2 separate regions of the Homo sapiens genome follow, and region 2 is reported to be linked to region 1. Evidence: microRNA targets listed by miRTarBase, many of them from high-throughput screens and not tested one by one. Region 1 holds a microRNA gene; the other region holds the end of a gene's coding sequence.

What was found. The annotated mature microRNA hsa-miR-335-5p reads UCAAGAGCAAUAACGAAAAAUGU and lies in region 1 at 2,553-2,575, opposite strand. An mRNA with a match to its seed (bases 2 to 7 or 8) in the 3' UTR can be bound and repressed. Matches are read on the target gene's strand: a 7mer-m8 pairs with bases 2 to 8, a 7mer-A1 pairs with bases 2 to 7 and ends in A, and an 8mer does both.
Region 2: miRTarBase lists LOXL1 as a target of hsa-miR-335-5p. The part of its 3' UTR that is shown has no 7-base or 8-base seed match.

Annotation. Positions count from the first base shown.
Region 1 is chr7:130,493,630-130,498,700 of GRCh38, reverse strand. It overlaps MIR335 (microRNA 335), which reads right to left and starts at 2,590; the gene lies at 2,497-2,590. It overlaps MEST (mesoderm specific transcript), which reads right to left. Exons shown (of 12, transcript NM_002402.4): 2 at 3,179-3,333; 3 at 1,466-1,545; 4 at 688-765; 5 at 426-562; 6 at 224-282.
Region 2 is chr15:73,950,915-73,955,985 of GRCh38, reverse strand. LOXL1 (lysyl oxidase like 1) reads right to left here. Exons shown (of 7, transcript NM_005576.4): 7 at 3,850-4,155. The coding sequence ends at 4,149. Among named protein-coding and RNA genes, the nearest start is that of LOXL1-AS1, 25 kb to the right of the region's middle. RefSeq lists an enhancer at 2,772-3,455.

The DNA of each region.
Region 1 (5,071 bases):
ATCCTTTGTAATGCTGTTTGTTTCTTTATTTTAAAACATTCTGAGAAAGGGTCCATAAATCTTGTCAGACCACCAAAGGAGTTGATGGCACAGAAGAGGTAGAGATCCCATAGTTTAATTATGTCTACTTGAAATATTATCAGATTACCATTTAGGTGCCGCTGTATCTAAAGATGGCCCTTCTAGATTACACCCACTTTCTACCTACCGCCAAGGCAATTACCTCCATTTGACAGACAGAGACTCTTTATGGTAAGCCGACCAGATCGATTCTGCTTGTACCTAGAAGGGAGACGAGGAAACACACATGTAGCTGAGCAAACTTAAACCAGTGCACCGCTGAAAACGAGAGAAAAAGGATACAAACAGTCCAGAAACAATGTACTTTCCTAGCATCATAAGCTGAAGTCTGAAGCTCCACTGACCTGTAGAGAAGCTCCTGAGCAACAATATCTCCATAGTCATGAGAAAGAAGGTTGATCCTGCGGTTCTGGAGCCCCAGATGCCGCAAAAGCGCTTCCACGATGCTGGCCTGCTCAAATATGGAATAGTGATGTGGTCTCTGAGGAAAGGAAAGCCCACATACACAGGATGAAGTCATGAGGACAGCTCTCTCTGCCAGCCTGACCCTCATAGTCTGCGTCTGCCCCCACACCCCATCACCAGCCCCACATAGGTGCTGCTTACCGGTTTGTCACTGAAGCCAAAGCCTAAGAAATCAAGGGCAATCACCCGATGAAACCTCAAGGTCAGACCTTCCCAAATCTACAAGAAAGAAACGATGATTTGGGCTTTCTGCTCCTGCCCCTCCCTTTCACCAGACCTACAGTTGCACAGGAGCTTCAGCCCTATCTTGGCTTAACAGACTTCCATAAAGAGAAAACGCCATGAAACTACCACAGGTCCCACAGATGATCCTCTTGGAAAATGCTTTATTCCTGGTAATTAATCCCTGTTGAGGGAGGGTAACTTGGCAGTGATCCCTTCCAGAGTGCCAAGGAGTTGTTTATTCCCTTCAGTAAATAAGGAACAGTTCAACATTTAATGTTTTTTTAAAAGCAATTCAAATGTGCAAGAGCCTTCTGGTGCTGACAACAAAATCCTTGAGGTTTTTTAAATTTTTATTAAAAAAAAATTTTTTTTTGAGACAGACTCTCGCTCTGTCACCTAGGCTGAAGTGCAGTGGTGCAATCTCAGCTCACTGCAACCTCTGCCTCCCGGGTTCAAGCGATTCTCCTGCCTCAGCCTCCCAAGTAGCTGGGATTACAGGCTTGTGCCACCATGCCTGGCCAATTTTTATACTTTTAGTAGAGATGGGGTTTTGCCATGTTGGCCTGGCTGGTCTCAAACTCCTGACCTCAGGTCATCCTCCCACCTCAGCCTCCCAAAGTGCTAGGATTTGAGCCCCCGCGCCCGGCCGAGATTTTTTAAGACATAGTAGGACGTAGAAGTCTGACTTCATTACCTTGTACCAGTCGTAGCTGGATGTTGGAAAACCGTGTAAAAGCACAACTATCTCTGGACTTCCAACCACACCCACAGAGTCTAGGAAGAAGGAAAGTACAATCAATTATGCCAAATCCCTATAAAAATAACCTCGAAGATGTTAAAATCTAAGTAATCTGATACAAAGAACAAGCAACTGTGACCAAATTGACATTAAAATGACACAATTATTTGTAAAATGTAAGCTTAACTGCGTTAGGTGAGAACAGGCCTTTTCTCCTTTCAATCTGTATATTAAAACATTGTAAAAATCATGCTATGTGAAAATACTTGAAGGCACCTTGTTTACTTTCACCTAGGTGTTTTTAAACAGCATCTCCCCATTTCTCCTTTTGTTCTGTAATATGCAAATTTTTTCAGTGAAAAGTAAATTTTCAGTTAAAAGCATATGATCACAACACATAAACTACAAATTCTTTGTACTTTATCATGAATGGCCTCACAGAAATTCTCTAAGATACAGCAACTATTCCCAAGGAACACCTTTAGCTTATGCTGTTTGCTCAGCACTTTTTATTCAGCAGGAGACCCAATCTAACATCAAAAACATAATAAAACTATTACAAAATCCTGTCAACTATAAAAAGGGCTTAATCAACATAAACATGAACTTTTTTAATGCATATGACAATATGGAAGCATTCAGCATCATCTAAATTAGGTAAACATTTAGACAATATTAACCTTGCTAATAGTATGGGATTAGAACAGGTATATTCATATACTGCCAGTGACATGAAAATTTGGTAATAAGGTTTTCAAAAATAATTTAGAAGCAGTTAAAAATTGTATATACTTTAGCCTAAGAGTTTTGTTCTTGAGAATCTGTGCAAATAAAATCATTCCATTTATACAAGTAGTATAGTTTGAAAATGTAAGGAAAAAATAAACTGTATGGACATGAAGCTTTTACTTCAACATTAGTTTTCTAAAACAGTAAAACTGGAAGTAACCCAAGCCAACATAATAAAAATTGTATACTTACTTAATTGAATATAGCAAATGAGAGGAGGTCAGGAGCAATAATGAAAAACGGTTTATGACAAACATTTTTCGTTATTGCTCTTGACCCCCGCTCAAAACAAATCATTTCCAATCTGTTTCTCAGTTTCTTCACCTATAAAATGAGGTTAATGGCACCTATCTCCAAATGCTGTTGTAAAGATTAAACAATGAAGGCTGAAAACATAACTCAGTGCCTGGCATATGGTAATTACTTGATAAGTAGTGGTCATAATAATCATCATCACTAGCAAATTAATTTATATAATGGTATCAAGACTTAAATCACAGTTACACTACAAATAATCTACAGAAAAAATGAAATCAGGGATGGTAAGGAGAGAGAACCAATGGTGGTTATATCTATTAATATTTTATATATTACCTGACAGGTTGCTCAAAAAAAAAAAAAAACTAATATTGGAATACATATCAAGCTACAAAGAAAACTTATACTAAAAGGTAAGGTCTGCAGGTTGGAATCTCAGTCCCTACCCCCATTCTCCCAGCAGTTTTCTGCGCTTCTCTGCAAGCACACTACACAGAAAGAGAGAGAGATACTCTCCTCCATCATTAAGGAGCAACAAGAGACCAATAGCCACAAAATAAATACCTCAGCTGGGACTTATGTGACCGATACACGCAGGACTTCCAATAGTCCACTTCTTACCTTGGTAGAAGATACGCAGTCCCTTGTAAGTGAAAAACTTGCCTGAAGACTTCCATGAGTGAAGGGCAGGGGAGAGCTGAGGGGGTGGGATGTGCAGGTACGCAGCAAGCAGGGGCACGGCCAGCAGCCCCACCTGGACCCACCACTCCCTCATCCTGTAGGAAAAGCAGAGACCCACTGTAAGCAGTCAGGTAACATTGTCCACTCATCTACAAACCAAAACCTGGTAAGATGGGGTGGGAGATTGCTGTTACCATGCAATGATTACATTGCCCTTCACATAGGCACAAAGCTGACCGAGACTATAATCAAACCTCTGTCTGCCATAGCACTCACCATATTTGTTCATCATTCTAATCTTAAGGAAAAAAAATACATTATTTCAACATATAATCTTCTGCCTCTGCTCCCCGACTTTAACCCCTTAGCCCCTACCCTTGTGGTCTTCCCAATACCTGCTGAAGAGGACTTTATATAAATAAAAGGGACATGACTTAAATGCTGGACACTCTTTCGTTGACTTTTATCAAGGCTTCCCAGGAAAAAAATAACTTCTTTCTTATTTACTCCAAAAGCTCTACCATCTACCCACTACCCCCAACCAGTAAAATGTTCAAAAAATATATATGTGCTATATCTCATGTTTTAAAGAGTGTGTGTGTGTAGTAACTTATCACATGTCCTCAAGCAGAGAGCTACTCCTGATTTTCAGCCCTCCTGCCTAAATGAAGCCCCATTTAGTACTCCTTTCTGGATTTGGGCTGAGAAACTGCTCAGGGTAAACAGTCTGTGAAAGTAAGATAGCTGCACTGTGTATTCCAACATAAGCAGCTTTGTCATGACCCTGAATATCTAATCTCTTGAGAGGTCAAGGCGGTAGATTACATTTCTGCTTTTCTTAGCAGACTCTTTAAGTTTCCATTTAATTTCCTAAGATGCTCCCCCACCCCCAGATAAGGCATAACTCATACCCAGCGTGTGAGAATTGATTTTGTCTTTGGAAAAAGAGCACTGGTTGGTACACCCAACCCTCCCATGCCCAGGACTTCAAAGGCACAAGTCAGTTTATCCACATTGACAAGGAGTGCCAAACAGGAATTATAAACCGTTCTGTTTCAAGTCTATGACTTCTGATGGTCAACAGATCAAGAATTGTCAGTAGAATGGAAGTTCTCTCAAAACAGCCAGAATGGAAATAATACCCTCCAAAACTAAAATTAGAGTTGTCATAGAGCTGAAATAAATTAATTGCTAAAGCCCTGGGGGAAATGGCTTTCCGTCTGTACACACATTCTTCCCTATTGCCTGTAATCTACCTACCCGTTCGCTAACTTCCTCAACTTACAAGATACTTTTCCCCCCCATATCCCTGATACTTTTTGCTAAAATCTAAAAACAAGCCTGTGGTTTTACAGTGGTAAAATAACCATGTTTCTTAAACAATGTCAGCTCCCCAGGCTATTTTTTAGGCATTATTAGGGCAGTCATTTCTTTTTTTCTCCAAAGTACCTGTCCATAAGACGGATAGAACCATTTGGTCCTACTTCTCAAGGTAATACTAGAAATGGTTCAAAAAAGTGCCAGAACATGATGGTTATATCACAGTTTTCACCCAACAATAGCAGGCTGTATCCCAGTATCTCCTTGAAAGGTCAGATGACAAAAACCATTAGGTTTTGACGATCATTTGCCCAGCCCTATCTGTCCTGTACTTCAATGTATACATTTTCATGTGCAGATTTCATTACTCCTTTCCCCCAGTGCTTCTCATCGCATTCATCCCCGGGGTTCCAGCAGCTGAATCTCTGCAGTGACTCAGCAGAGAGCCCCGGGAGGGGCGGCCAGAGCGGCAAATGGGGAGGCTTCCCCGCCGCTGCTCAGGGAAAGTGGGGG
Region 2 (5,071 bases), not on the chromosome of region 1:
GCCTCTCTCTGTGGCATCCTCCAAGCCAGATAACGCCCCAGCCCTCACCAGGCTGCAGCCCTAGCAGTGCCTCTGCTGGCTCCCTGCTCCCCTTCTGAGGCAGTCCCCCTGCTGCTTGCCCACCTTCCCCCAGGCTGGACTTTGCCTATCACTCCCTACCCAGCCTCCTTCTACCTCCCATTTCCTCCCCTCCCTCTCTTCTCTTCCCCTGCCCCTTCTTCTCTGCCAGGTAAGGACTAGCAAGACACTCAGCCCCCTCAGGACAGATAGGGAGACTGAGGCCCACTGAAGGACAGAGTCAGGGCCACAGCTGTGCCCCCTGCCAGGTGTCGCCTCTGCTGTCTCTGTCCTTCCTGCTGTCCAGTCACATCCACCAGAGTCATTTACTTAGTAGACCCCGAGGACCAGCCCAAGGGAAGGCTGCGGGGCAGGGGGTGGGGGTCTGTTTCACCTCAAGGTGTTTCTAACAGCAAATGTCTCGAGAAGCAGTGAGCTCCCCAGCCCTGGGGCTGAGCAAGAAGAGGACAGGGAGGGATGCTGGGCAGGTGACTTGAGGCCCTTACAGCCCAGGTGGATTCCTGCACACCAGTGCCCAGTGTACCAGCAGAGACCCTCTTGGTCTGTGCAGCCCAGAAGGAGGTGCTGGGTCAGGAGTGAAGATGGCACCTATGGTTTTTTTGTTGTTGTTGTTTTGCTTTTCTTTTTTTTTTTTTTTTGAGGTAGAGTCTTACTCTATCGCCCAGGCTGGAGTGCAGTGGCACAATCTTGGCTCACTGCAACCTTCGCCTCCTGGGTTCAAGCGATTCTCCTGCCTCAGCCTCCCGAATAGCTGGGATTACAGGCGCGTGCCACCATGCCTGGCTAATTTTTGTATTTTTAGCAGAGATGGGGTTTTGCCGTGTTGGCCAGTTGGTCTCGAACTCCTGACCCCAAGTGATCTGCCCGCCTCGACCTCCCACAGCGCTGGAATTACAGGCGTGAGCCACTGCACCTGGCTGAGATGGCACCTATGTAACCTTTGTCCAGCATGCAAGGCTCGGGTGCCTCCTCCCATGCCCCTGTGTGTCCGTGGCAGGGTGGGGGTGGGAGAGTCCTGAATGAGGCCACACAGTGCACCCCAGTTGAAGGGGAGAGGGGATGGTTAAGGAAGGCTTCGAGAAATCGGGGTTTCAGCTGGCCTTGAAGGGGCAAACGGAAGGGTGAAGGGACCAGTGGGCCTGAGTCCCTGCGTCACGTGACCTGGCCTCCAGTGGGCCTCACACACCCCTCCCTGGGCCTGGCTTGGTGGGGTGAGCCCAACAGGTGAGCTCTATCTAGGGAGGGGCCCGAGCCAGGTGACAGCAAGAACAAGGAACAAGCAGGCTGTTCCTCCATGCAGTGACAGCCAGACAGACCTCAAGAGGCTGAGGCCGAGCTGGGAGAGCACTCCTCTCCCAGCCGCCCTCCTCAGCTCAGCGCCTGCTGGGCCCCTGCCGTCTTGACAGTTTTTCTCTCCCCATTCTCAGGGAGACTCTGCCATTCTACATGGAGTCAAAATACCTGAGGAAACCCTGCCCCCTGAGGTGGGAGCAGCTGCATCTCCTTTCCCGAGGGGCCGTCACTGCTGGGCAGTGCCGTGAAGCTGCACTGATAGGGCCCTGACAGGTCAGCCAGGAAGCGGTGAGGGCTGCCCTGGTCCCTGCGCGTCACGGCTGTCTTCTCTCTTCTCTCTCTATCTCTCTTCTCCTTTGGGTGAAAGCCTCCTCTGCTTTTTGGGGGGCAAAGGGGTATCTGAAGCCCCTCCCCAGAGATCTAATCTCAGAGTCCTCCCAGCATGTGAGGACTGGCCCAGGTGTCCTCACTCTGATGGCAGGCTTGGGGACATCCACCAGCCCCCCTAGAATCTGAACTTCAGGCCAAAGGTTCATGGGCACGCGGGAGCACTGTGTCTGGGAGTCTCCTTGTGTGCTCCCCACCTCCCCACACTTTGTGATGTGTGGGCTTTTTGGAAAAGCCACCCTTACTCTCTCCTTCCATCCAATTCTGTGTTCAGGGCCATAGCTCATCTGCTGAGGGTACAGATCTCCCCAGAAAACTGCACACACCCGGCATTTGGCCCTGGCCTAGGGCTTAGAGACGTGAGCTCCAGCACTGTGTCTGCCTTGAACTTGCCTGTGGTCTCAGACAGGCTTCAGTTTTCTGACCTGAGAAATGGGGGCTTTTGTCTCTACCTCATACGGGCCTCCTGACAGTCTGGAATTGGTTGACCTTGTCTGACCCCCTCCCAAGCTCACTCCTGGGAGTATCTAGGAAGGAGAGGGGGTGGGGCTGCAATAAGGACAGCATCTTGGGAAGCACACACCGGCAGGGGATGCAGCAGAATGGCAGCCCTGGATGACAGGCATGTGCCTGTACTCCTCTCACCCGTCCTGGTCCAGCTCCAGAGGGAGAGTGGCAGAGCTGCGGCACCTACCCTGTCAGCAGAGTTAAATCCCAGCCAGACCTGCAGAGGAAGGGCCGAGGGAGGGCTGCAGCCACACCCACTCCACCCTGCTGCCTGGGCTGGTGAGTGGCCCAAGGGCTCCAGGGGACTGGGCCAGAACCCTCCTGGATGCATAGCATGGCTCCAAGAAGCCCTCCCTCTCTACTGCACCAGAAAACCTCCTTGCTACCAGGGACCCTGAGGCAAGGATCGCATCAGAGCCAAAAGCAGGGGACACCTTCTTGGAGGACCTCTGCAAATGGGCTGGGGCTCACCAAGATCTGGAGGGGTGGGTGCTGACACCCTGTAGCTCCCCCGGCACCTCCCCTGCAGCAGTAGCTCATCAACTCTCCATGTCAGTGTGGGAGCCAGGCAGGAGGGCATTCCCATCTTACTCATGAGGAAACTGAGGCCCGGAGATGAAGTCTGACTTGCCCACAGTCACACAGCAGTGAGCAGGATTGGCCCTGGAACCCAGAGCCCTGGTACTTGGACAAAGTCTCTTTCCCTTTCTCACTGGTGTTGCCCCCACAGGGAAGCAGGTGGGTCTGGAGGCATCCCGAGGGCTCGTTGTTCAGGGCCTCGAGGAGGAGAGGCACCACCCTCTCACTTCTTCCTGGTCCATTCCAGTGTCCAGGACCTCTGGGATGCCACAGCCAGGGCAGGGGACGGGGGCTGCAGGGCTGCGGGGCCTCCCTCCATCTCCCACTCACACCCTGTCGGCCTGCAGCCCCACCTCATGATCTCTGCTCAATGCTGTCTCTCTGCCAAGAATCCTCTTCTCCCCTCCCTGCCTGGAAGGAGGCTCTCTCCCATGTGAAGGCTCCCCAGAACCCCTAGGTGCTGCCTCACTGGGCAACGCGTGCTCCCCGTTCCCTGTGGTTATGCGCTCCCTGAGGGCAGAAGCTACGATGCTCCTGCGTGTGCCCTAGCACAGCACCTGGCCTTCAGGAGACTTGAGTTCGGGAGCCTGCAATTGTAAGGGAGTGGGTGGCTGGTGGAGAGTGAACGGTGTGAGAGTGAGAGGGCCAGGAGGGGGACCGGTGGGAGTGTGAGGCTGAAGGCTGAGAAGGGGCAGCAGTGGGCACACGAGCCCAGATAGGAGCAGGGGCTGAGCAGGGAGAGCAGGCTGGTGCCGCCCACCCCGCTGCAGGGCCCTCCCCTAGTCGGATGTGGTCCCATTCCCATGCGACAGGCTTGGCCAAGGGCTCAACCCCACAGGCTTCCACGATGGGCTCAGCGCCCTCATGGTCACTGTGGTCCTGACCGGGTGGTGGCTGCCCTTTCCACATTTGGCGAGGGGAAGGATGATGCCTAAGGACATCCCCCAGGCCCAAACTAGCTGTGGCTGGCCAGCCAGCCAGCAGGCCGCATGCAGAGCCACAGAGTAGAAAAACCTTGTTTTATTCAGCCCAGACCTGGGCAATCTAGCTCTGTGGTATGGCCAAAGTATAAAAAATAAAAACCAACAACAACAAAACAACACTGTAGAGAAAAGTGAAGTATAAAATGGGGTCTGGCGTCCGGAATCCCTGTGGTTTTCATCCACGTTCGCTCCCTGAGGCCGGCAGGGAGGGATGCCCCTCCGTGCCTGTGGGTTGGGGGCTGGGCCCCTCGGCGGGAGGCTGCCCGGGGAGCAGGGCCTGCTTTGGAAGGGGAGAGATTGGCCATCTGTCCCTCCCGGAGATCAGGATCTGAGGAAGGAAAGACAGTGGGTCAATGAGGGGCTGCAAAGTAGGCCCCCGTGGCCTCCTCAGCCAGGGCGTCCCTCCCACAGCCCAGATCCCTCGTGGCAGGGCAGGCATGGGCCTACATTTCCCTCAAGAGAAAGTTCCGACCCCCTCAGCCCAGCTCCAAAAGGAGGGGTTTGATGGACTCCCACCCACCCAGGGCACAGTCTCAGCACATTCCCCTCCCCATGCCCTAGTCCCAGATTGTTTTCTAGGCCATTAGCAGAGCTGCTACTGTCTGGAAATACTTTCTTGTTTTTTCTAACTCAGTACTTTTTTTTTTTTAAGCCTCCTTTTTCCTCCAGAAACACGATGGAAACCCACAGGCGTCAGTCCCGTGGCCTTTCTGGGAACGCTCTGTCCAGCTTCCTGTGCACGCTGGCCCAGCTGCCTGCCTGCGGTCAGGGTCACAGAGACTGAGACACTCTAATAAGGCCCGGCCTTTCCAAGCACTTATGTAAAGAGCTCTTGGAAGGAAGGGCTTTGGCTCCCCCTGCTGCCCACAGGCCCCCGGGGAGCTGGGAGGGCCGCGCAGGCTGCTTCTCCATCTGCCCTGCCGACAGCCCTCCTGGCTGCTCCAGGCGCCTGGCACGTGGGATGCTGTTTCTGTTCCCATCCCCCTTTCCCAGCAGCAGGAGGGATTCCCTGCCTCCCCGAGCCCCCAGCAGCCTCCTTTGTTTCCTGGATACCCCCTTCTTCCTTCCTCCTCCTTCCCTAGAATGGCTTCTACCACTTAGGTGACCCTGGGTCTTGAATGGCTAAGACAGGCCCTGAGGAGCAGGAATGTGCTGGAAACCCAGGCCTGCTAAAGAGCCAAACTGCCAGTGATGGGACAGGAGTTCGTCCTTTCAAACATGCTGTGTGCCCTGGGGAATTCTGA